Linked DNA regions of Homo sapiens: all the other regions are linked to region 2. Evidence: fine-mapped expression QTL. A gene starts in region 2. Each other region holds a variant in brackets. All regions are shown on one strand. Distances are from middle to middle.

Region 1 (5,107 bases), 310 kb before region 2:
TGTGCAGATGTTTGTAAGTTAAACATAAGACACAGGGGCTGTTGCTTTTGAACAGAACCCTATATTACTCTCCTGGGATCTGAGTTTCTGCAGGTCATTTGTATGTAGGACCAGGAGTATCTCCTCAGGTGACCAGTTTTGGGGACCCGTATGTGGCAAATTCTAAGCTGCCATATTGAACATCATCCCACTGGGAGTGGTTATGTTGTATCCCCATCTTGGCTGGCTTCAGTTTTTGCTGTAGCCCTAGAGCACTTTGTTTGTGGGAGGCTGGCCTCTTGCCTACCTCCTTGCATGGACAGGGGGATGAATATTTACTTTCCCACCTCCTTGCTTTTTCTTTCACTGATACCACTGAATGGAACTGGTGCTGTGACTCCTGCTGCTGGGGATTTATGTCCCGAGACCTTAGCCTGGCTGAGTGGAGCCTGAGACCTGCACAACAGCTCATGGTCATGCATGAGAGAGAAGTGGCTGGCCACAGCCAGAGGGAACAGTAACAGCCCAGGGGCCTTTATTTTGGGAAAGGCTGTCCCGGGCTGTTACTGTCTCTTCTGGTTATAAAGCAGACATGTGGCCATCTTTTCCGCAGGGTTAGAGTGGGCTCCTTTCTTTTTGGAATCCTTTTCTTCTCCTTTGGTAGCAGCTCCCTGCCTCCAGGGCTTCCGCCACCAGCGTCTCTGCTGTGTTGCGCAGTGCAGTGGGGTGCAAGGGCTTTGTTTCTGCCTGCCTGAAAGAGAGGGCTCTGGGGATGGAGATGAGAAACAACACGCTCTCCTTCAGACAATGAGGCATTCTGTCCTCCTGCTGCCATTCTTCATCTCCACTGAGAGCCAGAGCTGGTAGGAGCCGAGTGCCACAGGCATTCTGCATTGCTCTACTCTTAGGTTTGTGTGTGTGATCCTTCCCCTCCCTGTCGCCCACTCCTCCCTCCTCTGGCTATCCTACCCTGTCTGTGGGCTCTTTTACTACCAGCCTATGCTGTGGGACTGTCATGGCATTTAGTTCAGAGTGGAGGGGCTTTGGCCTGAAATAAAATGCAAGTATTTAAGATTGTTGTTGCAATTTGTGTCTAACAAGCTGTAGCAGAGAAGGAGGGAGTGAGCGCTGGCAGTATTTCCTTTCATAAATCATGAATTTATCAGTGTGGAAATAATGCTTCAGAACTGTGCTCTGTAGCCCTCCTGCATTGTGTGTGCAGCTCAAGTTCACCACTGGAGGAAGGATTGTCTTCCAAAGAGCTGGGATCCAACTCTTCTCACAGTTCTGGGCGTGAACCTTGTTAGGTATAATTTACCTGATGCTGCTTCCATCCTCGCAGTCTGTCTGAGGTGCCAGGTGCTGAAAGAGAAATAAAGTTTGTCAACAGGCAGATGCAAAGCCCTGGCTGGTATTCATCCCTCTTTCCTGCCCGCCTCCCCTGGGTCTCTCCTTTATATGATGCAGCAGAGCAAGGCGAGGATAGAAAACCTACAGAGGCAAATCCAAAATGTCAGAAGAAGTTCATTTAAAAGGGGAAAAAAACTCCATGTGCAACCCTCACAAAAACCCGACAGATGCTAAGCTAATGGCATCCGCTCTGCCGATTGGTGGGGATGGCTCATGAATATTAATGAGCCCAATGCTCCAAATGGTGCAGCTGTGAACCCAGCTGTGCCTGAAGCTCTCTGATCTCGAAACTTCCAGACAGGAGCTGGAGGTGGTCTGTGTCAATTCCCTACTCAGCCAAAAAAACAGCAAGCTGGGTTGGCCTTCTTCTGTTTGCTCCTTTTCTTCCTGGAGTTGGTGCTCAGCAGCTAGTTCTGCCAGCCGGCTAGGCTGCTGGGACAGCAGGAGCCATTCAAAGACATGGATGTGATTTTTCTGACTCCCAGCTTTTTTAATGATCCATTAGCAGCATGCATACAACAGCACCTCAGTTAATCTAAGGCCAGGCACCATCTCTTTTCAGTCTCTCTCTTAACTGAGTATAGGCCTTGGAAGGAGAAGTCCTAGGAAGGAAAGCACTTTTCTAATAATACAAGCCTAGGGTCATCCGAAAAATAGCGCACATGAGTTTTCCTCTCCATCCAGATAGTGCCATAGGCCCCTCTTCTGTTTTGCTCTGTCCCTGCGTGTGCCCAGGTCTAGCCACTGTGGCCAGATGACCTCTATGAAAGATGGAGGATTAGCTGTGGGGAGTGGCTCATTGAGCTGTTTTGTAGGATAAAAATATTTTGTTTAGAATTTAGTTTTGAGTCAAGTTCTGTCCTGATGTAGTCACCTTTCTTCTGTCAGATACCTCCATGGCCCACATCTAGTCATCCATTACCCAGGATGACTGATTCCAAGCTTGTGGAGGTTGTTTGGTGGGAGGAAATGTGTTTGTGTGTGAGGGGGGTGTTTTCTTACATTAAAATACTAAGTTTTATAAACATAATTTTATTGGCCCTTCTCAGTGCCTAGCAAGGAAGGTAGGTTAGGTATATGCTCCTTTTTTCGTTGAGGAAACTGAGCTCAATGTTTTTGTGTGTGTTTTTTTATTTGTTTGTTTGTTTGTTTTGAGATGGGCAGCCTTTGCTGCCCAGGCTGGAGTGCAGTGGTACAATCTCGGCTCACTGCAACCTCCACCTCCCGGGGTCAAGCAGTTCTCCTGCCTCAGCCTCTAGAGTAGCTGGGATTACAGGGGCCTGCTACCACACCCAGCTAATTTTTGTATTTTTATTTTTATTTTATTTATTATGATTATTTTTTGACATGGACTCTTGCTCTGTTGCCAGGCTGGAGTGCAGTGGCGCCATCTTGGCTCACTGCAACCTACACCTCCCGGGTTCAAGTGATTCTCCTGCCTCAGCCTCCCGAGTAGCTAGGACTACAGGCACGTGCCACCACGTCCAGCTAATTTTTGTATTTTTAGTAGAGACGGGGTTTCACCATGTTAGCCAGGATGGTCTTGATCTCTTGACCTCATGTTCCACCTGCCTCAGTCTCCCAAAGTGCTGGGATTATAGGCGTGAGCCACCACGTTTGGCAATTTTTGTATTTTTAGTAGAGACGGGGTTTCACCATGTTGGCCAGGCTGGTCTTGAACTCCTGACCTCAAGTGATCCGCCTGCCTCAGCCTCCCAAAGTGCTCGGATTACAGGCGTGAGCCACTGTGCCC[A/C]GCCAAGTGTGGTTTTTTAAAAAGCATGTTTTTAGATGATGGTGGAATATGTTCACATGAGAGATACTTTCCAAGCTCTGTGAGACAAGTCCCCTACCACTCCAAAAAAGAAAAAGTCTACCACTACATTCAAGGAAAAAAACAACAACCCTGCAGGGCTTTTCAGAATTGTTCTCAGAAATCAGAGCTCTTTCACAGTTCTTAGTTTTCTCATGCTAAGGCCTTACATCCATACTACCGAGTCCAAGGTACCTCCTATCCTCTCTGTTAGCTTTGCTTGGGAGGTGATAATGACTTTTTTTTTTTTTTTTTTTTGAGATGGAGTTTTGCTCTGTTGCCCAGGGTAGAGTGCAGTAGCATGATCTCGGCTCTCTGCAAACTTCACCTCCCGGGTTCAAGTGATTCTCCTGCCTCAGCCTCCTGAGTATCTGGGACTACAGGTGTCCACCACCACGCCTGGCTAATTTTTGTATTTTTATTAGAGATGGGATTTCACCATGTTGGCCAGGCTGGTCTCAAACTCCTGACCTCGGGTGATCTGCCCTCCTTGGCCTCCCAAAGTGCTGAGATTACAGGTGTTAGCCACTGAGTCTGGCCTTATTAGAGATACGACTTCTTAGGGGGGAAAAACACTTCTATTTTAGCCATGACTGGATTTGGAGTTGGAAAGCTGGAGACCTCAAATCTCAAGATATAATAAACAGACAACTTATGCTCAAAATGTTAACAAGAACTACACTTCCTAGGAGACAGAGTCCTCCTGACTGAATAAGCAGAGTGAATAATTTTACTTTTCTTTTGTTCAGGGGAGATCTGGTCTATTTTCACAAGCAAAGGAGAAGGAAAAAAAGCCAAGGGGTACTTTCATGGTTGCCAAAGGGTCACAGATAATAAACAGAGGTGACAAAGCTAGGGTGTGAGAATTAGGAGACTACTGGGAAGTCTCTAAGGTTTTTTTCCCCTGGAAGGGCAGGAACACAAGATGCTTCTGGAATCTCTGGATTATGGGAAGCCACCAGCCAAAATTTCTTTTCATGCATGGCTGCATGGCTGTCAAGTCTCTCCTTCCTGTCCTTCAGCCAAGCACATTTTCTTTGATACCGTCAGTTCAGAAAGGGCCAGCCTGTTCGAATCCTGTAAGTGCTCTAGCTCTGTGTGTCCCTTTCCCTGGTGGCTGTGTTGGTGTGGGAAGCCTAGCCCACCCCACCAGCAGCCTGACCCGGATCCTTCCCGCAGAAGGCCCAGAACAGTGAATGCCTGAGGCAGTTTGTTGGAGGCAATGCAGCCTGCCTGCTATAAGCTGTGAGACTTAGATATATTCTACCAATTAGGGCACATCTGTTCAAAACGCTGAAAGGCGGGCACTGTCTCTTTAAGAGGCATCCCACTCCTCTCCTTGAGTAATGAGGGCTGGGAGCACAAGGGAGTCAGATGCTGATTAAACAGTCCTACTGCCGAGCTCTGTTAGAAAATTACTGTAATTATGATCTGGTCCCAGCAGAGGGATGAGTTCCAATCCTGCTAATAACCCTTCCAGGTGCCTCAGATTCAGGGCCCATGGGAGGCAGCGTCGACAGGGCTCTGGCTGGCACCAGGACCAGTGATGGCCCTCCTGTCTGGCCTGTGCTGGCAGAGACAACAATGACACTGGACCTCACTTCCTATTTTGGCCTCCTGAGAAGGCAGTGGTTTTTGGTTGCGTTTTTGTTTTATTTATTTTTTGGTTCTGGACAGAGCTCCTGGGAGTCATTTTGTATGAGAAAACTTTCCAGTAAATGAACACGGAGGACCAGGAAAATCACAGCCGAGAGATGGCAATCTGTCCTGAATCTCCCCACTTCTGCCTGGGGACTGTAGTCAACATACGAAAAGCATGTTGCCCGGCCCCAGTCCCACCAGTGCACTGAGGAGGGAACCAGAGCCGAACCCTTTCATCTGCAGCTGCCTTCTGCGTGGTGTTTCTTG
Region 2 (5,000 bases):
AAGCTCCTTATAATTTGGTTTCAGACTCCTCCATATATTTTAAAGACCTGAGCACCAACAGAGATTGTTAAGATACAGCAAGCTTGATACAGAAGTATGCGACATGCAATTAATCTCCATTCATACCCCGCTCTACTTGTCAGCAAACAAAGGTTCTGCTTTAGAAGGAGATCTGAAGACTTCAATTAAAAACAGTCAGCTAACAAGAAAATAATCTAAGCTAAAGGAAGGTGGCAGGTGCAGAAATGAGTTGTTTACCAAAGTGTCAGTTTTGAACAATGAAGAACTGCACATCAAAAATGCTGAAGGAATGGATTTCATTGCAAGCCTCTGAAAATAAAAAGGAATTTTCTACCAAGCCTAGACACAAAACTGAAGTATAGTTTAATAAGCTTATAAAATAGGTTTCCTCTCATCAAATGACAGATACCAATAAAAAGAATCAGTTTATATATTTCAATGCAAGGGCAGAGTTAAACTTTTTGCCACAGTCCCTTCTTTCCTAGAAACCAAAGACAATTACAGCCTTCCTTCACAAGCCTAATATTAAACCAACAACAGAGGGAAAGGCTGGATTGTTTCTTCTTAGACACCCAGATAATTCTCTTTTACCCTGCAAATAGTTTTCTACCCCCAAAATTTAGATTTATTCTGATCGTAAGTAAAACGGATTTTGGAAACCTCACCTCAAAAGAAATATCTAGCTGACAGCTTTTACATAGAAGCAATCCAGAATGGAAATAGTGCTACAGACAGAGACCAAAAGGACTTGCCAAATATTTGATTAGGAGGCATTTATACCGAGATAACAAGGTAATGGAGATATAAAACCAATTAAATTGAGAGAAACTGAAAAAAAATACTGCTTGCCAAAAATATGACCTGCCCAAAGCAGGCCGTCTGTTAAATATGTGTCAACTATGTCAACTTAGATGCCAAAAGGCTTAATTCTGAATAGTTTCCTCCTGGGAGCCTTATGCGACTGCAGATTCCAGGCCTCTGTCCTCCCTGGAAGGTTAGTTACAGGAAAGCAAGTAAAAGTGACTTCCACCACGAAACCCAGCAGATGAAACTGCCCGTTAGCAACGTCTCTTTGTGACATCTCTTTGGAGTGTTGGCAGTGTGTGTTGAGTGTTGACGGGGATGGCCGGAACTCTTTAAACCACCGCTTAGACACTGTAGTTGGAAGGTGAACACACCACAATGGGAGTTGGAAGGTGAACACACCACAATGGGGGCACTTCTAGAAAAGGAGGAAATCCCATACTGAGAATGAGCCTGCCTTGGGGTGGGTGAGACCCCTAGACGTCTGCAGGGTGATAAAGGGAGGGCTGGGGTTTTCGCACTGACAAAAACTCACGTCAACCACCTGGCCTTGGCCCATGGGGATCCCATGAGCCCCTCGCAGCCCCCTGGAGAGCCTCGGGGACCTCTAAGCAGGAAGGTTTGGGGTCTTCTGTGAGAGGTGAGGAAGTCGTGGCTGGGGAAGGAGGGGGACGGGAAACCCTACAGATGTAGGGCAGTCCTTTGGAGAAAGGGACAGGTCGGAGACCAGGCAAGGTGGCATGGGGGACCAAGAACCTGGCCTGAGGACTTTAGAAGCCGGGGAGGTGAAGTGGAGGCGTGGAGGTGCCTCAAGGCAAAAGAAGATGTGGGACTCCAGGGAGTGAAAGGGGCCCTGAGGTGAGAGGATGGAAAGCTGGCTCTAGGGAGTTGAGGGCTCTAGAAGCCTTAAGGTTCTAGAAGGAGGTGAGTGACGAAGCCGTAAAGAAAGCCTGGCCGTGGGAGGCCTGGTGTCCCCTTTCGGCCTTCGGCTCAGCACTGGAGGGGGCCTGCGCCAGGGCGTTACCTTCCAGGAGCCAACGGATCTCCTCAGGGAGGGCGGCGGCCTGCATTTGGCTGGGCGGGAGAGAGGCGGGACGGGGCGCGGGCCCTGGTCGGGAGGCGGACGGGCTGGAAGGCGACCCGGCTGCACCGCGAGGCACCTGTACCTCAGCCGCGGTCGCCGCCCGCCCAGCCCGGCCGCGGGGCGGGGCCGTGGGTCCCCGGGCGCGTCAGGAAGTGGCGCGGGCGGCAGGCGGGGACCGGAACGGGGCGCGGGGCGTGGGTGCACGTGGCGCTCACGCCGGAGCCCCACGGTAGAAGGATTGGGGGTGCCGGAAGCACCGCACCGTGCGAGGCCAAAGGTGCGCCCCTCCAGCACCCACCAAAACAAAAGACTTCACAAGGCTCAAAGGACCCACGGCTTTGGACACTCCATCCTAAGCACCGAACAGTTGACCTCACGGTGGCAGATTTGAAAGACCACGGGGTGCCTGAAGTAGGGTGCAGGGAGGCAGAATCCAAGGAAGAGATCCCCGTCAAGCATAGCACCCCTCAATTGCCGGTCCAGTTCACATCTCCATCCCCAGAAAAGAGGGCAAAACTTCGCTCTTTGGGAAGCCACAATGTTGAAAGGAAATGATTAATTCCCAATAAGCAATATAAGGACACCAACATTTGGGAGAATCGCGGCAGCGTGGCAGCAAGGGACACAGGAAACCAAACTGTGCTGTTCTCCCTCAGGATGGAAAGGCCCTGAGGAAAGGAAGGGGTAACACAGGGAGAAAGCTGAGGGAGAGGAGAACAGAGCCCTTTCCCTCCAGGAGCTGCGGAAGGGAGGAAAGTGAAGGACAAAATCACACGGTCTCATTCAAGGGACAGTTGGTGTCAGTGTCCTGGTTGTGACATGGTACTGTAATAGTGCCAGATGTTACCCTTGGGGGAAACTGGGTAAAGGTAGACAGAGTTCCTCTATTATTTCTGAAACTCTCTGTGAATCTATAATTCTCAAAATAAAGAGGTTTTTTAAGTACAATAGGTCAACTGCCATGAAAAAAGTATAAAGTGCTATGGTTGATAAAAGAAGGGAGCTGAATACCAGAAAAGGAGGGAAGAGGCCAGGCATTGTGGCTCACACCTGTAATCACAGCACTTTGGGAGGCTGAAGCAGGAGGATCACTTGAGCCCAGGAATCTGAGGTTACAGCCAACTATGATCACCCCAGTGTACCCCAGCCTGGGCAACAGAGCAAGACCCTGTCTCTTAAAAAAGAAAGAAAATAAAAAGAAGTGCCAGTGTGCATGTGAGTGTTTAAAGGTGCATGTGGTGTTTGAGATGGGCTCTGAAAAACACACCAGACTTTGAAGGGGCAGAGGACTTTCCAGGTGGAAGGACCAGAGTAAAGAAAGATGGAAGAGCCCTCACCAGCTTGAGGAATAGTTAGTAGCCCTCTTTTACTGGATGTTGTAGAAAGACTATGGTTGTCAAGATAAACTGCAGCTCTACTGTGAAGGGACTTGAAAGTCAGAATAGGAATGTTGAACTTAATTGAGAGGGCACTGGGGAGCCATTGACAATTTTTGAGATTGGGAATGACCTAACCAGAGCTCCGGGGTGGTATGTGGCCTCACACATCTCCACCTCTGCCTTTTTCCTTCTTTGTAAAAAATGGCATTTCTATTCTCAGACTCAACCTACAGAATATGTAGAAAAGATTAGGAGTGGTGGGAAAAGACACAGGGGGAAGTGGGTAAAATGGTTTTTACAACAGCCATAAGGGGAATAATGATGGACTCAATCTAGCAGACGGGGCAAGAGCAGTAAGAAGAAACCATCGAGAAGGATGAGTGTGATAAAAGTGCCTGCCTCCTTGTACTGTTTCCCATCCAGAGATACAGCCTCAAAGATGAGGGTGTGATCCTTTAAGGAGTACAGTGCATCCTGCCATCTGAAAAGCAGTGGTGCATTGGTTTCAGTGTCACATGACCCACCTACAAGCTGCAGTAAATTGGGGTGAGGGGACAGAGGCTGGCATGAGCCTCTCTGGGGTATCTGGCTCCTGCTCATCCTCCTTCCTGCCCTGAGAAAGTATAGTAATGGGTGGCTGGGCACAGTGGCTCACGCCTATAATCCCAGCACTTTGGGAGGCCAAGGCAGGCGGATCACGAGGTCAGGAGTTTGAGGTCAGCCTGACCAATATAGTGAAACCCCGTCTCTACTAATAATACAAAAATTAGCTGGGCATGGTGGTGCACGCCTGTAATCCCAGCTACTCGGGTGGCTGAGGCAGGAGAATCACATGAACCCGGGGGGCGGAGGTTGCAGTGAGCCGAGATCAGGCCATTGCACTCTAGCCTGGGTGACAGGGCAAGACTCCATCTCAAAAAAAAGAAAGAAAGAAAGAAAGAAAGTATAGCAATGGGCAGACTACCCCTTTCAGGCTTGGGATCAAGTACCAGGTACCCCCATGGCATTTTTACCAACTTCACCACTTCACCTATAAAATTGTAGCTGCTCTAGAATCATTTTGAAGTACTTATGAGGCATACTAAAAAGCAAGGAAAGATACATGGGAACTGTCTGTGCTATCATCTCAATTTTTTTTTGGTAAATCTAAACTGTTACACAAAAAATACAGCAAGGGCAGCAAAGTCTCCCCATATGTCAACCTAAACTTTGCCTTGCTTTCCTTCTTGGCAACAGAAGAAAATTTGATAACCTCCCCCTCTTCTTCAAGGATATGGTGTCACATACTAATATAAGCTACCAGCTAATGAATTGTTTGATAAAGAGCAGTAAACCCAGGTAATTGCACTTCTTTGCAGGCTTCACTGCCTGTCATAGCTTACTTACACCAAAAACTCACAGTGTACGTATTCTATATGCATCCTTCCTTACAAGAATCTCTGGGTTTTAGAGAGACAGGGGTAGAGGGAGGTGCACAGTCGGGTAGTATGTAGTGAGTGACTGGCAGATTCCAATACGGTATTGTCATGTTGCATCAAGGTTCCTCATTGCAGACAGAAATCTGCCTCCACACATGAACGCAGCCCTTCCTTAATCATCTGAGGACCCTGTTTCAGCAGTCAGCCCCACTCCTAATGACATTCTGTTAAATGGACAAATTCCTTTGAAGCCTTGTCCTTTTTTGAAATCCAATTTCGCAGGAAGCCAAATCT
Region 3 (5,132 bases), 280 kb before region 2:
AGGGATCAGCCAACACCCTTTCTAGGTGTTTATAGATGCTCTGTTTGTGTAAAGTACAGTGAAAAATAACAATTTGAATGTTTCGATTATCTTTCCCAGTCCGTTCCATTTTCATTATTTATTTCCTATAAATCGGGACCTTGCTGAACATAATTCTGCAGACAAGGAGGTGGATGGGACAGCCAATGTGAACAAGGAGATAGATGGTGGGTGCGTATAAGATAGATGCTATGCGCTTATGAAAAAGAGCAGTATGTCTGCATGTGAACATCCACAAAGTAGAGCGAGCAAGCGTGTACACGACAACGGGTATTTATAGGTGGAAAAAGGTGCAAGGAAGATTATGTGGGAACAGGCACAGAGAGTCTGAAACGGTTTGCTCTTTTCCCTACCCTCCTGGAATCCACGTCCAAGTTCTGCCTAAGATGTCCCACACTTGCTGTGGCTCCTGTGAACCTCGCAAGCCTTTCCATGACAACAGACGGGGATTTCACAGCCAGAAGACTTAGGAGGTCAACAGTTGAAAAGCAAGATTTAGAGAGATCTTTAAACAATCACACTAACCTCCCTCCCCTTCCAAAGACAGAAGGAGGAAAACATTTAAAGACGCAGCAGGAAAAAAAAAAAAAAAAAGAGCCTTTCTAAAAATGCAAGTTTAAAATGTTCATGCTTTTGTATCAGCCTAGTTGCACCTTAGAATCTGCCATTTCATAAATAAAATACCGATGGCATAGAGTATAATTTGGTGACAGCTACCCCAGGACATATCTAGATGCACTTCTGTTATTTTAATTAAATACTGCATTATGGTTTGTGACAACTACATAGCTATAGCGTAAATGAATTCAGAATTAAAGTGTTACTTAGGCATCCAGTAATTTTTGTTTCATTCCTTAGTTTTACAAAGCAAATAGCTATAAAATCAAGATGTTTGTTCATTTACAGATGGAGCAGGATTGTCGTCGCTGTTTTTTTCCTCCTTAATCCTCATCCACAAAAAGAAGACACAGTTCAGAGTCTGGCTCCCAACACTCTTAGCTTATGAGCCACATCACAAAGAAAAACACATCCTCTTGACTATAATGTGAAATGCTGAATATTAATTGCTGGTATTATGCCTATCTTTCTAGCTGGGTTCTGTCTTTTAACAATTATTCGGATGGGCTACAGCCTTGCACTGCCAGGAGATTCTTCTCCTTTGTTTAATAGTTAGAAACCAATTTTATTAAAAAACGGTAAAGTTCACAATGCTCCATGTAAGTTCTTAGTATTTGGAACTCTCCCCAAATACAGAATATTATCAGGAACAGAGAAACTGCAGACTCTCTTTGCTAAATATGATGAACATTTCTGCATTTAAAAGAAAAAAATATTTTTCATTTTAGCAATATTAATGTTTCCTTAATGAAACTGGAGAGGGTGTTACAATTTGATATACTTGGTTAGTTTCATTGTCACTTCACTAGCAAATCATGAGAAAGGTTCAGAATATTCTCATCTATCAGGTACAGATTTTCACTCAAAATTAATATGTAGAGTAAAAGGATTTTTGTTCAAATCTGAGGATTTAACTGTATCTTTAACGTTTCATATGTCAAGATGAAAGTTTTTAAATAACTAGTTTTCTGAAACCATTTCTATTATTTCTAATTTGAGAATCAATATGATCTTTTTATTAGCCTTAAATACCATACATCTGGGAATGTCTGCAAATTTAAGCTTTTCTGTGTTCTAATCAATTACCTTCAGTCTTGCATAACTAATCCTATAATCTCCATAGAAGTTACTGCCCTGTATGTTAGCAATGAGGTTATACTTTGTTTCAATATTTTGCTAGTTTGGTTGGAGAGCTGAATCACGCAATACCAAGAAATGGTGGCAGAAGAGGTTTGGGGAGGCTGAGTTTCTTTTGAGAAAATAATTATACTGAAACAAAGCTTTTGTGACTCCTTTTAAATAGGGCATCTCACCAAAATGTCATCCAGCCTCTTTGGCAGATTAGTGGGGAGTTTATTACTAAATCTCTGTCTAATAAATGTGCAGTTGACTCTGGAGGAGCTGCTTGTTATAATACTGGCGGTGGGAAATGGAGGGAATGTCACAGTTAAAGACACAAATTTTCCCCATAATATATTCAAATGGAAACCTCTGAATCCAATACTACATGGGCATATCTAATAAATTCACAATATTTCAGTTTCCGCAGCCTTCACCGGTTAGTTTTAAAGATTTATGTGGTAAAAAATTACTCAGTGATGAATATGGTTTATTCTGTGCAGTATTGGAGGTATAAGGAATTAAACTACCATCTTTAACAGTGAATTTATTATTACCTCTGTCAAAAGACGAAGACGTTAACAGCATTTGTTATAAATTCACTGCAAAATAAATGGCTGGAATTTTTTACACTGGAGTTTGTAAAGCATCGGGCAATTCTGAGCATTAACCTAACCCGGCCGTGGCTTATATGGTTCTAGGTAAACGTTTCTGTCTGGGCTTCGTAGTTAATTATCTGGTCTGGAATTTTCCCCAACTGAAAACTGTGTGCACATG[GAC/G]ACACACACACACACACACACACATACATACACAGAGAGAGAGAAAAGTGAAAGGTCTTGTCCAGGACAACTGTTTAGGAATAAATAGATTAGACTATTTATAGATAGATAGAATAAAATAAAATGCCAATTTTATTCTCTTTTTAAAAAATGGGTTTTAGAATAAATGGTCAGGGTTTGCAGGATGGGTTGATGAGCAACTGGGCCTCTTGTTAGCAGGTTTACATGCATGCATATGCACACACACATAAACACCCTCTCCCTTTTGTCCTCTCTTGGAATGGGTGTCCCCTCATTTATAAAAATTACCTGGAAGGAATGAGGCTGCCAGGGTTTGTTCTAGACGATTGGTTCCTGTCTGGGGGAAAGGAATGGCCTCTACTGAATTTGACCGGTATATGACCGTTGCCTTCCAGCTGACCCCAAATCCCATTCCCATCCTCCTAACTCCGTTGCCTCCCATAGGGGTTATTAATGAGAGAAAACACCATCATCATCATCTTCGTCATCACAGCACAGTGTTGACCTGCTTGTTAACATGAAATGGGGTGGTGGGGACAGCTTCTGCTTCTCTTGCATACCATCATAAATAAGAAAAGATACTTTGCCATAGGATCCCCTCACCCACCCCTTTGATTAGGTCAGAGGTGCATAATAGCTCTTTGACAGGCATTGATCAGTTTCATCACACTGTTTGGGCAGCCTGTGCCCCAGGCCTATATTCTCCCCACTTACTACCCCTAAATTACCTCCCAGATAACCCCCCACCCATCCCCCACTCAGCCAACCAGAGGGTATGGTGCCTGAGGAAGTCCTAAATGGACACTAGATGTCACCAAACACCTCCTTTCCCTCAGAGCCCTGAAATTAAAAAAAAAAAAAAAAAGAAAAAAAAATCCTTCATTTAAGGCAATTGAAGGAATTAACTTATCTGTTTTTATGAGGGTTGTTGTCACATTCAACTAAGCACACTTAAAAGAGGAAGTATTGCTGCATTAAGATAATTTTTACAACATACAAATCTCTTTTGGAAAGAACGGGGTCAAGGGAGGGGAAAGGTCTCCATTCTTTTAAGTAGCCCATTGAGGAAGTAGGTGGAGAAAACCGGGTTAAAACTCCCATTATAATTGACATAGTGTTGTGTTAACATAGTCCAGGTGTGCTGGCGCAGGCCTGCCGCATTCAGATGACTAGACTGGCTGTGGAGCCAGGATCTCATCTGAGTTTAAGTAGCTGCAGTCCAGGGTGACAAAGTCCATTCTTCTCCACATAAGACCCATGACCATCTGACAGCATCACGTGTTCCACGCTAAACTTGACTTTGTCTGTATGGCTCCCTGTTTCCACATCAATTCCATCAGCAAGGAAGATGACCCAGACCCTGGTGTGTCTGGGCCATGAGAATACCTTCCCACCCCAGCTAAGCCACCGTGTAAGTATAAATCTTATGCGTACCCAACTTGTTGCTCCAAGGCTGCTTTCCATGGAAATAAGGCACTGGACAATTCCTTGGAAGAGCCTCAGACCAATTTATGAGGCACACAACCCAAGCCCAAGAGATGTACACTGGCTCAGTTTACCTTAAATGGAAGATCTCACCCAGTGGCCTCTTCTCCTTCCTAGTCAATTGAAAAAGAGCTTCTCTTTCCCTCTTTAATTTGTCCTTATCTTCTGAACAGCTCATGTTACCACCATAAATAACTTATGGAACAGGATGCTTTTAAAAAAAATGGGCGTTTAAGTCTTATCTTGGCTGGGCGTGGTGGCTCACACCTGTAATCCCAGCACTTTGGGAGGCCAAGGCAGGCAGATCACTCGAGGCCAGGAGTTCAAGACCAGCCTGGCCAACATGGTGAAACCCCATCTCTACTAAAAATACAAAAAATTAGCCAGGTGTGGTGGCTTGAGCCTGTAATCCCAGCTACTAGGGAGGTTGAGGCAGGAGAACCGCTCGAACTCAGGAGGCAGAGGTTGCAGTGAGCCAAGATTGTGCCACTGTACTCCAGTCTCGCAGTCTGGGTGACAGAGCAAGACTCTGTCTCAAAAAAAAAAAAAAGTTATCTTGAATAGTGGAACAAGCATGATGATGATGATGATGATGATGATTTTTATTTTTTCTTGAGATGGAGTCTCGCTCTGTCATCCAGACTGGAGTGCAATGGCATGATCTTGGCTCACTGCAACCACTGCCTCCCGGGTTCAAGCGAGTCTCCTGCCTCAGCTTCCCTAGTAGCTGGGACTACAGGCACGCGCCACCATGCCTGGCTAATTTTTGTATTTTTAGTAGAGATGGGGTTTTGCCATGTTGGCCAGGCTGGTCTCGAACTCCTGACCTCAGGCAATCCACCTGCCTCGGCCTCCCAAAGTGCTGGGTGAGCCACCACGCCCTGCCAACAAGCATTATTATTATTTGGAAAGAATGTTCCCTAGTGAGAGACACTGGAGCCAAGAAGACAGGGTCACTTTTCTGAAAGCTAGGACTTGTGACTTGTCTTATCCAAATAGAGGCTTCTTACCTCTTTTTCTCCCACTTATAACAAGTGACCATAGGCCAAGCACAGTGGCTCACACCTGTAA
Region 4 (5,132 bases), 240 kb before region 2:
ACTGTCAAATCCTGATTTCTTAAAAGTCTGAGAAAGAGGCTGGGCCCAGTGGCTCATGCCTGTAATCCCAGCACTTTGTGGGGCTGAGGCAGGCAAATCACGAGGTCAGGAGTTTGAGACCAGCCTGGCCAACATGGTGAAACCTCATCTCTACTAAAGATACAAAAAATTAGCCGGGCATGGTGGCACACACCTGTAATCCCAGCTACTCGGGAGGATGAGGCACAAGAATCTCTTGAATGCGGGAGGCGGAGGTTGCAGTGAGCCGAGATCGTGCCATTTCACTCCAGCATGGGCGACAGGATGAGACTTCGTCTCAAAACAAAACAAACAAAAAAAAGTATGCGAAAGAATCTAAGAACTGTAAAAGGCTTCACAAATAATACCCTGAAACTTACATCAGCCTTTAATTGTATGCTGCTAACATTCTTGGCTTTCAATTAGCCTTGTTAGGTACAAATTTATTGAGAAGTCAAGATCCTAATCCATCTTCCTCCACTGGGGTTTATACTTACTTCACAGAAGGGAGGGACAAAGGATGGAGACAAAGAAGGAATTTACTTCTCAAAAAATAAAATGAAAGAAGAATGAAAAAAAAAGCCTCTTTTAAGGACACACTCCACATTTCTTAATTAGGCAAAATGAAGGTAATTGGGCTAGCGGTATTTTAACATTTATTCTTTTTAGTCCCAGAACTCAAATCTCTTTTGGATTGTCTTAAATAATTTATGAAGCAAACCAAATACAAAACAAAGTAAGGCATAACTACATATGAATCAACTGGGCCACCTATAGAGTATCTTGAGAGTTATGGTTGAAATAACTTTTTTTCAAACAATTGTTTTTTGAACATTTCCTACAATAACATTTATTCAATGGTGGCTATGAGCTGGCACTTTGCTCAGTGCTTTTCCTACTTTTTGTTTTAAAATAACATCTACGACAATTTAAAATGCAATCAAAATTACATTTTGCTTTAAAGCTGTTTCAAGCTTAGTTATAAAAAGGTAGATCAGAAGAGCCTCTTTTTCTGTTTTTAAGTGTGTCTATGTGCCTGATTTTTTATCCAATTGGTCCTTATTGTTAACCTCCTTGTTCATGGACTACTTTTATTTGTGTGTTTCACAGTTAGCAAACTATGTGGTTGCCATAAATCCTTTTAATCAATCTCAGGGTGCACGCATGAGATGAACAGCAGCAAAGGAAAGTTCATTTTTCTAGGGTTCTTTCATTTCTCCTACCCCTCTGAAAACACCCTCCAAGGAAACAGTAGCAGATTCTACTGAGGGTGAGGCATTGAGTGGGGTGAGGACCAGTTACAGAAGAGAAGGCTCTCTGAAGTGCTGTCAAAAAATTGCTCCTGGGGAGGCCAGGTGTGGTGGCACAAACCTGTAGTCCCAGCTACTTGGAGGCTGAGGTAGGAGGATCTCTTGAGTCCAGGAGTTCAAGGCTGCAGTGAGCTGTGATTGAACCACTTCACAACAGCCTGGGGACAGAGCGAGACTCTGCCTCTTAAAAAAAAAAATTGCTCCTGGAGGCCTAAAAATTAAATGAAAGACATAGGGAGATGAGGAAAACACGATCCCATAAGCTGGGAGTTTCCATCTCTTCTTTCCACAGGTTTTTTTTTTCTTTTCTTTTTAAAGGTCTTGTTAAACTTAGAGACACAGCTCCTTGTCAAAGATGCCAAGAGTCTGAATCATAAAAGACATGTTAAACGTTCTATTAGAATTCAAACCTCCTTTTTTTAATGCAAATTTAAATGCCATTTTATGGAACATCTATAATTATGAAAATGGGAAGACATTGCCTCGTGTGCAGGGAGAGTCTGTGAGTATGAATATTACATTAATGTGCCCACACCAGCTCACTGATCCTGCTGGCAGGAGCATAAAAAATGCCTGAGTGAAACTTTTATTTAGATGTTAAGACTCCAGGCCCCAGCGGGGTGACAGAGACAGCCCCTGTGAGTTGCCATCAGAGAGAGAGCTTGAATTGAATTACCCAGGGGGGAGGAAGTAGTGATGAGCACTGCTTCGCTTATTTAATTTCATTTACTTTCAGTACATTATCAGCATGAGGTTTTTCTCTCCCCACCAACTGAAACCCAAGAATGCCACCACTAAGGAAACAAAGACATAATACAGCAGAGATGTAACTCTAAGTCACTAATTCTAGGAGACAAGGGATAGCACCATCACCACCTTCTCTCCCCAAGAGTCAAACTCAGTTTGCTAAAATTGGGTACCAAAGGAGCTGCTGAATTTTTTCTCTTGGTCATTCACTAACAAGATTCTGAAAAGGAATAGAGCTGGAAACAGCTTTTTATATGGTGTGTTTTTGTGTATAGTCAGTAAGATGTGTTATGTTGCTTTCTTTCTTTCTTTTTTTTGAGACAGAGTCTCACTCTTGTCGCCCAGGCTGGAGTGTAATGGTGTGATCTCAGCTCACTGCAACCTCCACCTCCCGGGTTCAAGCGATTCTCCTGCTCCAGCTTCCCAAGTAGCTGGGATTACAGGCATGCACCACCATGCCTGAATAGTTTTTTGTATTTTTAGTAGAGACGGGGTTTCTCCATGTTGGTCAGGCTGGTCTTGAACTCCTGACCCCAGGGGATCCAGCCGCCTCGGCCTCCCAAAGTGCTGGGATTACAGGCATGAGCCACCGCACCCGGTCTATGTTGCTTTCTTATTCATTAGACAGAATCTGTATTGAGGAATTCTCTTGCCTGGTTCCCCTTATGGGCAGTGGGAAAAAATGGGATTATAGGCTCAGTTTAGAATGTCTACGGAAAAAAAATTAGGAAATGAGGTCAGATCAGTCTCTAGTCTACTAACTGTCTTCTGTGTACAAGGTACTGTGTGGTGAGTTCAATAACAGAGTTGTTCTCAATGTAGTTGGCTCTGAGCTCAATCTCATTAGCTCCATGATCTATCTGACAAATCCAAATAACCAAGGTGGGAATCCACAGTGGCATGCAAGGTACCTCCTCTTTCAGTGTCAGCGCAGGGTCCTACTGATCAAGAACTAGTGATCCTGAGGATGAACAGTGTTAGCCATGCCATGGGGTGATGAGGCAGGAATCTTGTATGCCTGGATCCACACCTACTGGTAAAC[G/A]AACAGATCTGCAGAGAACTACTTAATGCATAATAGAAAGTATGTAAAATATGCTTTAAAGGACGGTTATAAAAATAGGAAGAAGTTGCAAACAATTGTATAAGTTGCTATTTTAAGGCAAACAATTTATATTTAAGTATACAATTAAAAAAAGAAGCTTTTTATTCATTACCTGAGAAAAGATATCACCACCGTCATGAAAAAATAAAAATGATTTTGATTTATTGAGAATAAATGGCCCTCTTGGCTAAGTCTAAAGGTGTATTACATTATATCAGCACAAAACAGAATTACATTAGTGTCATAATCTCTCCCTACCACTACACTTAACTAAACCTCTCAGAACAGCCCGTATAAAGAAAAGATTCACTTAGCTGAAGGATATGGGGCCACAAAGATAAGATCAACAGAGAAGTATGTTACCCAGAAGTGATGGCCACCCAACTTTCATGGCAGATGAAGATAAAAGAAATTCTCAGATATCTTTCTCTTCATCTAGTTTCCTTTAAACCCTTGTATCCCACCCACATCAAAAAAAGCAATAAAAAACGACAGAATAGGATTCCATCTCTCAATGCTAAACATGACTCTTTAGTCAGCTATGCACAGCAACAACAATGGGGACCCTTTGGAGTGTGATACATTTCCATAAAGCAGTCAATAAAAAAGACACGAGAGCTTATGTGAGTCACGGCCTATTTAACCAGCTGCGTTCTAGCCCACTGAGAAAAGAGAATTGGAGAAATCAGTTGGCAACACCAGAGCACAAGGCTAATAGCACAGGAGGCCACACAATTTCCACGCAAAAAGGCTGCAGCCCCTGCAGAACAAACCAGGTGCCCACTAACTTTCATTATAGGCAGCTGGCTTGGTCTCTTGCTAAATCATCCTGAAAGGAAAATAAATAGTTTTTTAAAAAACATCTTTTGTTCAAATCGTCCCCCTGTTAAGTTATGGACTTCTCCCATCCTCCCTCTTCCTTTTAATTCAAGTTCTTTTCAACTGTTTAAAAGAGGGACCTAACCAACTTGAGCCTAGAGACTAATAGCTAACAGGGGTGAATTTCAGACAGGGTGAAGTTTAGCAGGATCCTTCATTAAAGTACTCATGTAAAAAACCTGGGGATTGGGTGTATGAGATTGGAGAAAATTTAACATCTGAAGGCTGGGAATGGTCAAATTCCACCTGCAATTCCAATGCAGTCACAGATGGCTGGTGTGTGTGCATCTGCAGACATAAACACAAACACACGCTTTAAAATGCCTCAAATGTACCAAGGTGAGGAGGGTATTGCAGATAGGTTGGGGAGGGGGTAGTTTTCTCTTGTCTGGTGATTGTGGATTTCAAATCTGTTCATGAACCTCTCTTTTGTGCATTTGATTTCTGTGGCCTTCTTTAATATGTTCATTACTGCTTTTCCTTAGCTTCTTACTTTTCTGGGTTACTTTTTTGCCTTCTTCTCAATTTTCAGGAACCAGTCAATAAATGATAGTTTGTAGTGTCTGGCAGGAAGTGTCATCTTCCGATGCTAACAAGGAAGTTGGTTTCAATGACTATTCCTTGATTAGTCCCTTGAACAGGCATATATAATTCTTTAACTTCCGTGGTTCCATTTGATATCCACCTGAGTTTACACTTATACCACACATTTTTCTTGCATTGTGCTTCACTTATAAAGGAATTTAGCTTAACATATGAAAGGTGAAAAATTCTAAAACATTAGTAATAGATTTAGCATCTAAAATTTCAAAGATATAGAAAGCACTCAAACAGATGGCTTTAAACTAACTGAATGGAACTGTTCATGGAGAAATAAATTGGACAACAGATGAAAGGAAGGGAATGAACACAACGTACTTAATCAAGTTCTTCAACAAGCTGTGATGTAAGAAGCTAGGAAACAGAACATGAGCAACAGGAGCTAGACTAAAGGACCCCAGAAAATGGTAGAAATGACACATTTGTAGTTAGCAAACCAACACAGAAGACAACTTTCATGAGACCTCAATAGACTC
Region 5 (5,132 bases), 56 kb before region 2:
TCCCAGCTACTTGGGAGGCTGAAGTGGGAGGATCCCTTGAGCCTGTGAGGTTGAGGCAGCAGTGAGCCATGATCATACCACTGCACTCCAGCCTGGGTAACACAGCAAGACCCTGTCTCAAAAAAAAAAAGAAAAGAAAAAGAAAAAAAGAAAGGAAAAATAATTCTATTTCCCAATTATAAAAAAATGATTAACATTTATTAGCACTTACATGTTAGGCATTGTGCTAGATATACACATATACATATGCATATACATCATATATATTTTTTTGAGACAGAGTCTCACTCTGTCACCCAGGCTGGAGTGCAGTGCACAATCTCCATTCACTGCAACCTCTGCCTCCTGGGTTCACGCGATTCTCGTACCTCAGCCTCCTGAGTAGCTAGGATTACAAACGTGTGCCACCATACCCAGTTAATTTTTTATCTTTTAGTAGAGATGGGGTTTTCCCATGTTGGCAAGGTTGGTCTTGAGCTCCTTGCCTCAAGTGATTTACCCACCTCAGCCTCCCAAAGTGCTGGGATTACAGGCATGAGCCACCACGTCTGGCCCTGTGCTAGGTATATGTTTTACATGTGTTATTTTATTTATTTATTCATTTTTGAGACGGAGTTTTGCTCTTGTTGCCCAGGCTGGAGTGTAATGGTGCAGTCTTGGCTCACCGCAACCTCCGCCTCCCAGGTTCAAGTGATTCTCCTGCCTCAGCCTCCCGAGTAGCTGGGATTACAGTCATGTGCCACCATGCCCGGCTAATTTTGTATTTTTAGTAGACAGGGGTTTCTCCATGTTGGTTAGGCTGGTCTCGAACTCCTGACCTCAGGTGATTTGCCTGCCTTGGCCTCCCAAAGTGCTGGGATTACAGGCGTGAGCCACCATGCCCGGCACATGTATTATTTTATTTAATCTTCATAAAAACCCTAGGAGGTCAGTATTTTTTTAAGACAAGGTTGCATTCTGTCACATAGGCTGGAATGCAGTGGTGCAATCATAGCTTATTGTAAACTTGAACTCCTGGGCTCAAGCAATCTTCCTGCCTCAGCCTCCGAAGTAGCTGGGACTATAGGTGTGCACCACCACACCTGGCTAATTTCCTTTATTTTTCATTTTAGTAGATACAAATTCTCACTATGTTGCCCAGACTGGTCTCGAACTTCTGGCCTCAAGTGATCCTCCTGCTTTGGCCTCCCCAAAGCACTGGGATTACAGGCATGAGCCACTATGCCCAGCCCAGGACTACTATTATCCTCATTTTACACATGAGGAAACTCAAACTCAGGAAGGTCAAACAACTTGGCCAAGATCACATAGCTACTAAGTGGCAGAACCAAGATTTGTATCCAGGTTGTATTAGTCCATTTTCACACTGCTATAAAGATACTACCTGAGACTGGGTAATTTATAAATAAAAGAGGTTTAACTGACTCACACTTCCACATGGCTGCGGAGGCCTCAGGAAACTTAAAACCATGGTGGAAGGTGAAAGGGAAGCAAGCACCTTCTTCACAGGGTGGCAGGAGAGAGAGAGAACATGAGAGAAGTGGGAAGCACTAGACACTTATCAAACAACCAGATCTTGTGAGAACCCACTCACTATCATGAGAGCAGCAAGGGGCAAATCTGCTCCCACGATCTAATCACCTCCCACCAGGTCCCTCCCTTGACATGTGGGGTTTATAATTCAAGATGAGATTTGGGTGGGGGGACAGAGCCAAACCATATCACAGGTCTACTTGGTTCCAGAGCCCAAGCTCTTAAATTCCATATTAACTGCTTTCCTATTGGCTGTAATATATAAAAAAAAATAAATCTGGTACTTAAGAGAAGATACAGTTGTTTTGTTAGATAGCCTATGGGCATGAATCAACCCTAATATGAATATTAGGGAGTGGTTAGACAGAGGTCTTTAACCTGAAGTCCATAGTTTAGGCTTCAGGGGATTTCCTAAACTCTCTAAAATTGTGGGTGAAATGTAACACTTGTTTTCTTTTCTCTTGGAGAAGAGTCTATAGACCTCATTAGTGTCAATAACTCACCCTTGCCCCACACCCACCAAAAATGATATGACCCACTGAATTAGGTGAATAGAGTTGTAATGGCATTATAAAACTAGCTACCCAGAAAGGCCAACATCTGTGATGTTATAACTCTAGAACATCTAGATGAATTTTTTTTTGCAACTGAAGTATTAAAAGTGTTATTTTACCTGTGACTTATGGAAATTTAAAACACATCATATACTCTCTGCCTTGGTAAACTCCTGCTGAACAAAATCAAATCTCTTCTTAATGACTTAAGGACATCCAAATTTGAACTTCTCTTTTTTGTTGTTTTTGAGACAGGGTCTTGCTCTGCTGCCCATGCTGGAGCGTAGTGACACAATCTCAGCTCACTGCAACTTCTGCCTCCCAGGCTCAAGCCATCGTTCCACCTTAGCTTCTTGAGTATCTGGGACTACAGGCACGCTCCACCATGCCTGGCTAATTTTT[GT/G]TTTTTTTTTTTTTGTACAGACAGGGTTTCACCATGTTGCCCAGACTGGTCTTGAACTCCTGGACTCAAGCAATCTGCCTGCTTGGCCTCCCAAAGTGCTGAGATTACAGATGTGAGCCATTGCATTCAGCCTGAACTTCCTTTTTGTACTAAAACAGCAATGCCTTCTGAATGCATAGGCTGTCTGCAATACTCAGTGTCCAAAGACTTCTATCTCTCTCTTGACCATCTCTGTTCTCTGATAATGGCTGTCTCCAAACAGACTGCAAAGGCTAACACTGAAGAGTTATCCTGCATTGAAAATGGAATCTTAGGATTCAGACGGACACCTAGTTGGGCATGGATTCCATGCAAGTTGATAAGGCTAGGAAAACCCCTTGCAACTGATCTTGAGCAGTCAGCCACATGGTAGAAGTTTATTTATGCCCAAGGAAATGGCTTTGCTGAGCAATGCTAAGAGTCTGTACACTAAATATTTCCTATAATTCTTTTTCTCACTTGGAAAGATTCACATTGCTTCCAAATTATCTTCTGAAAGTGTCCCATCTACTACCTTGCAGAAGGTATGGACTAGTGGCAAAGAGTAACATGGCCAGTGACACCCAACAACAGAAATGGGAAAACAGCACCATCTGGTGGAAGTCCCCAGTGGAGGCATCCAAGGCCTGGGACCCAGGGGTCCAGGTACCAGCCTTAGAAACAACTGGGCAGCAAAAGGAAGGTCTTTGGTGGAAGAGCTGGTGATCCTTCTAGTCCCAATTCCTTAATCTCACCAAAAGTACAAGACCTAATGCCTACCTACAAGGAGCTTACAATCTAGTCCAAAATATTAGCTCTTTGTATATAATGAGATGACAATCTAATATGATAAATACTACTGTAACAACAGACAATAGGCATATAACTCAATTATGTAATAGAAGAACATATCACAAGAAGGTCCCGGGTTCTTTTGGGGGATGTAATATTTCTGTGGTCTTGAGTCTATATTTACAAGCCCATCTAGGTAGATAATACAATGTTCACCTACCTACTAAATACAATGATCACAATCAAACTTATATTAAATAATAAACAACATTATCTGAGATTGACAGTATAACTCATCACCTGCTCCCCCACCACAATTTTTAAGTCCATTCCTGGACAGCAAAAAAGAAATTAAATTTTGAAAAGAAATTAAAGTACTATTTAACACTAGAGTCTCCTATAACACTTTTGCTACATGGAATCATTGCTATGGTCAATGAAACACCCACCATGAGTATAAACATTAAGAAACCTAAGAACTCTTTTTGATCAGTGAGTGATTAAGCTTTCTGATTGCAACACTGGAAACCCACATTCTAACATTCCTTCCCCTACTTTCTAGCATGAGGACTGTTTTTTCACCAGCAAATCTCACTAGTATGTCTACACAATCCCCATACTTCCTCCATGTAATAGGCAACAAACTATAATTCGATGAACTAATAAAGGAAAAATGCTAGCCAAATACATTATGGCAAAATAAAAACACTAAACAACAGGTCAGAGTTGGAGGGTTTTTTTCTGTAAATAAAAAGGAGTCATTGAAAGGTCTGTTTCTTTGTTTGTTTGTTTGTCTTTAAGGATAAAGAATGATGTCCACATCAAATCCAGCAGAGATGTGTAGCATGGATGGGAGGGAGAAAAGTGGGGAGATAGTTTAGGAAGCTACTTGAGAGCAAGAGAAAAGACAAGACATTAGATAACAGACTTAGAGACTGGCTAGGAGGAGAGCATCAAGAGGAAAGTCAGAGACGCCTTTCGGTTCCAAACTTGTGTATTGGAGAAAACAAGGTACTGCTTATGTACAAATAACTCCAGCTGATTACTGTATTCTAAACTGTTGTCTCTTTGGCCCTTGCTCTGTCATTTTTGTCACTGTTGACGCTTAAAAACCTAATTTTGTTTTATTTTTTGCTTGCTTCAGGTTAACAGCTACTCTTCGACCACTGAGACGCCATTATCTGATTAGTGAATAACTGGTAGCTGAGTGAATGTGTGACTGTGGCCCATATACTCACTGAATTTTACAGCTGGAAGGACACTTAAAATCATTTACTCTAGCCTTCACTTTACGGATGAGAACAATGAAGCATGGAGAGGTTATCTGATCGCACCATAGGAGTTTAAAAGTCCACACTGTGGGGCCACCACAGTTTATCTTGTACAGAATCAGGGGCAAGTTCAAAAATGTGATATTCATTTAAAAATGAGACAATTTCTACAAAAACATTTAAAACCTCCTTGGAAAAACTCGGCTATCATGCCTTTGATATTTTCCTTGTTATGAACATGGACATATTATTCACCTGAAGGCAAATGTTATGTAAAAAATTTTTAAGCTGGATTAGTTATTAGAGTTCATCTAGGCAAGGTGGATATCTCAGCATTAACATGCCAACACAGTCTCTGTATCTCAAGTTACGAATACTGCATTTGTTCTCTCAGTAGTAGAGATGAATAAATTTCCACTATTTGCCAGACACTCTGTGAGGGACTAAGAGCACAGAAAACCCAACTGTGGACCAGTTTGGCCGAAATAATCAAATTGTGTAGAAGTGATGTAATTGGCCCAGAACATGCAAATGGTAAAAACTGGGACCAGAAGAACCCAT

The links. PIP is the estimated chance that this variant, and not a neighbour inherited with it, causes the effect.
Region 1: its variant is fine-mapped to the expression of SKAP1 in whole blood (INTERVAL, PIP 0.95).
Region 3: its variant is fine-mapped to the expression of SKAP1 in whole blood (INTERVAL, PIP above 0.99).
Region 4: its variant is fine-mapped to the expression of SKAP1 in whole blood (TOPMed, PIP above 0.99).
Region 5: its variant is fine-mapped to the expression of SKAP1 in whole blood (INTERVAL, PIP above 0.99).

The regions. Positions count from the first base shown.
Region 1 is chr17:48,121,695-48,126,801 of GRCh38, forward strand. It overlaps SNX11 (sorting nexin 11), which reads left to right. Exons shown (of 7, transcript NM_013323.3): 7 at 1-1,907. Among named protein-coding and RNA genes, the nearest start is that of SNX11, 16 kb to the left of the region's middle. The variant A/C (reference allele first, on the strand shown) is at 3,143.
Region 2 is chr17:48,428,226-48,433,225 of GRCh38, forward strand. SKAP1 (src kinase associated phosphoprotein 1) reads right to left here and starts at 1,989. Exons shown (of 13, transcript NM_003726.4): 1 at 1,850-1,989. The coding sequence starts at 1,895. RefSeq lists a silencer at 1,903-2,162.
Region 3 is chr17:48,150,471-48,155,602 of GRCh38, forward strand. All of the region lies in intron 11 of SKAP1 (src kinase associated phosphoprotein 1), which reads right to left. It overlaps LOC124904018 (a long non-coding RNA gene), which reads left to right. Exons shown (of 2, transcript XR_007065827.1): 2 at 100-2,406. Among named protein-coding and RNA genes, the nearest start is that of MIR1203, 3.5 kb to the right of the region's middle. The variant GAC/G (reference allele first, on the strand shown) is at 2,554.
Region 4 is chr17:48,190,667-48,195,798 of GRCh38, forward strand. The region is part of intron 4 of SKAP1 (src kinase associated phosphoprotein 1); the gene reads right to left. Among named protein-coding and RNA genes, the nearest start is that of MIR1203, 37 kb to the left of the region's middle. RefSeq lists an enhancer at 1,503-2,120. The variant G/A (reference allele first, on the strand shown) is at 3,118.
Region 5 is chr17:48,371,718-48,376,849 of GRCh38, forward strand. All of the region lies in intron 2 of SKAP1 (src kinase associated phosphoprotein 1), which reads right to left. Among named protein-coding and RNA genes, the nearest start is that of SKAP1, 56 kb to the right of the region's middle. The variant GT/G (reference allele first, on the strand shown) is at 2,490.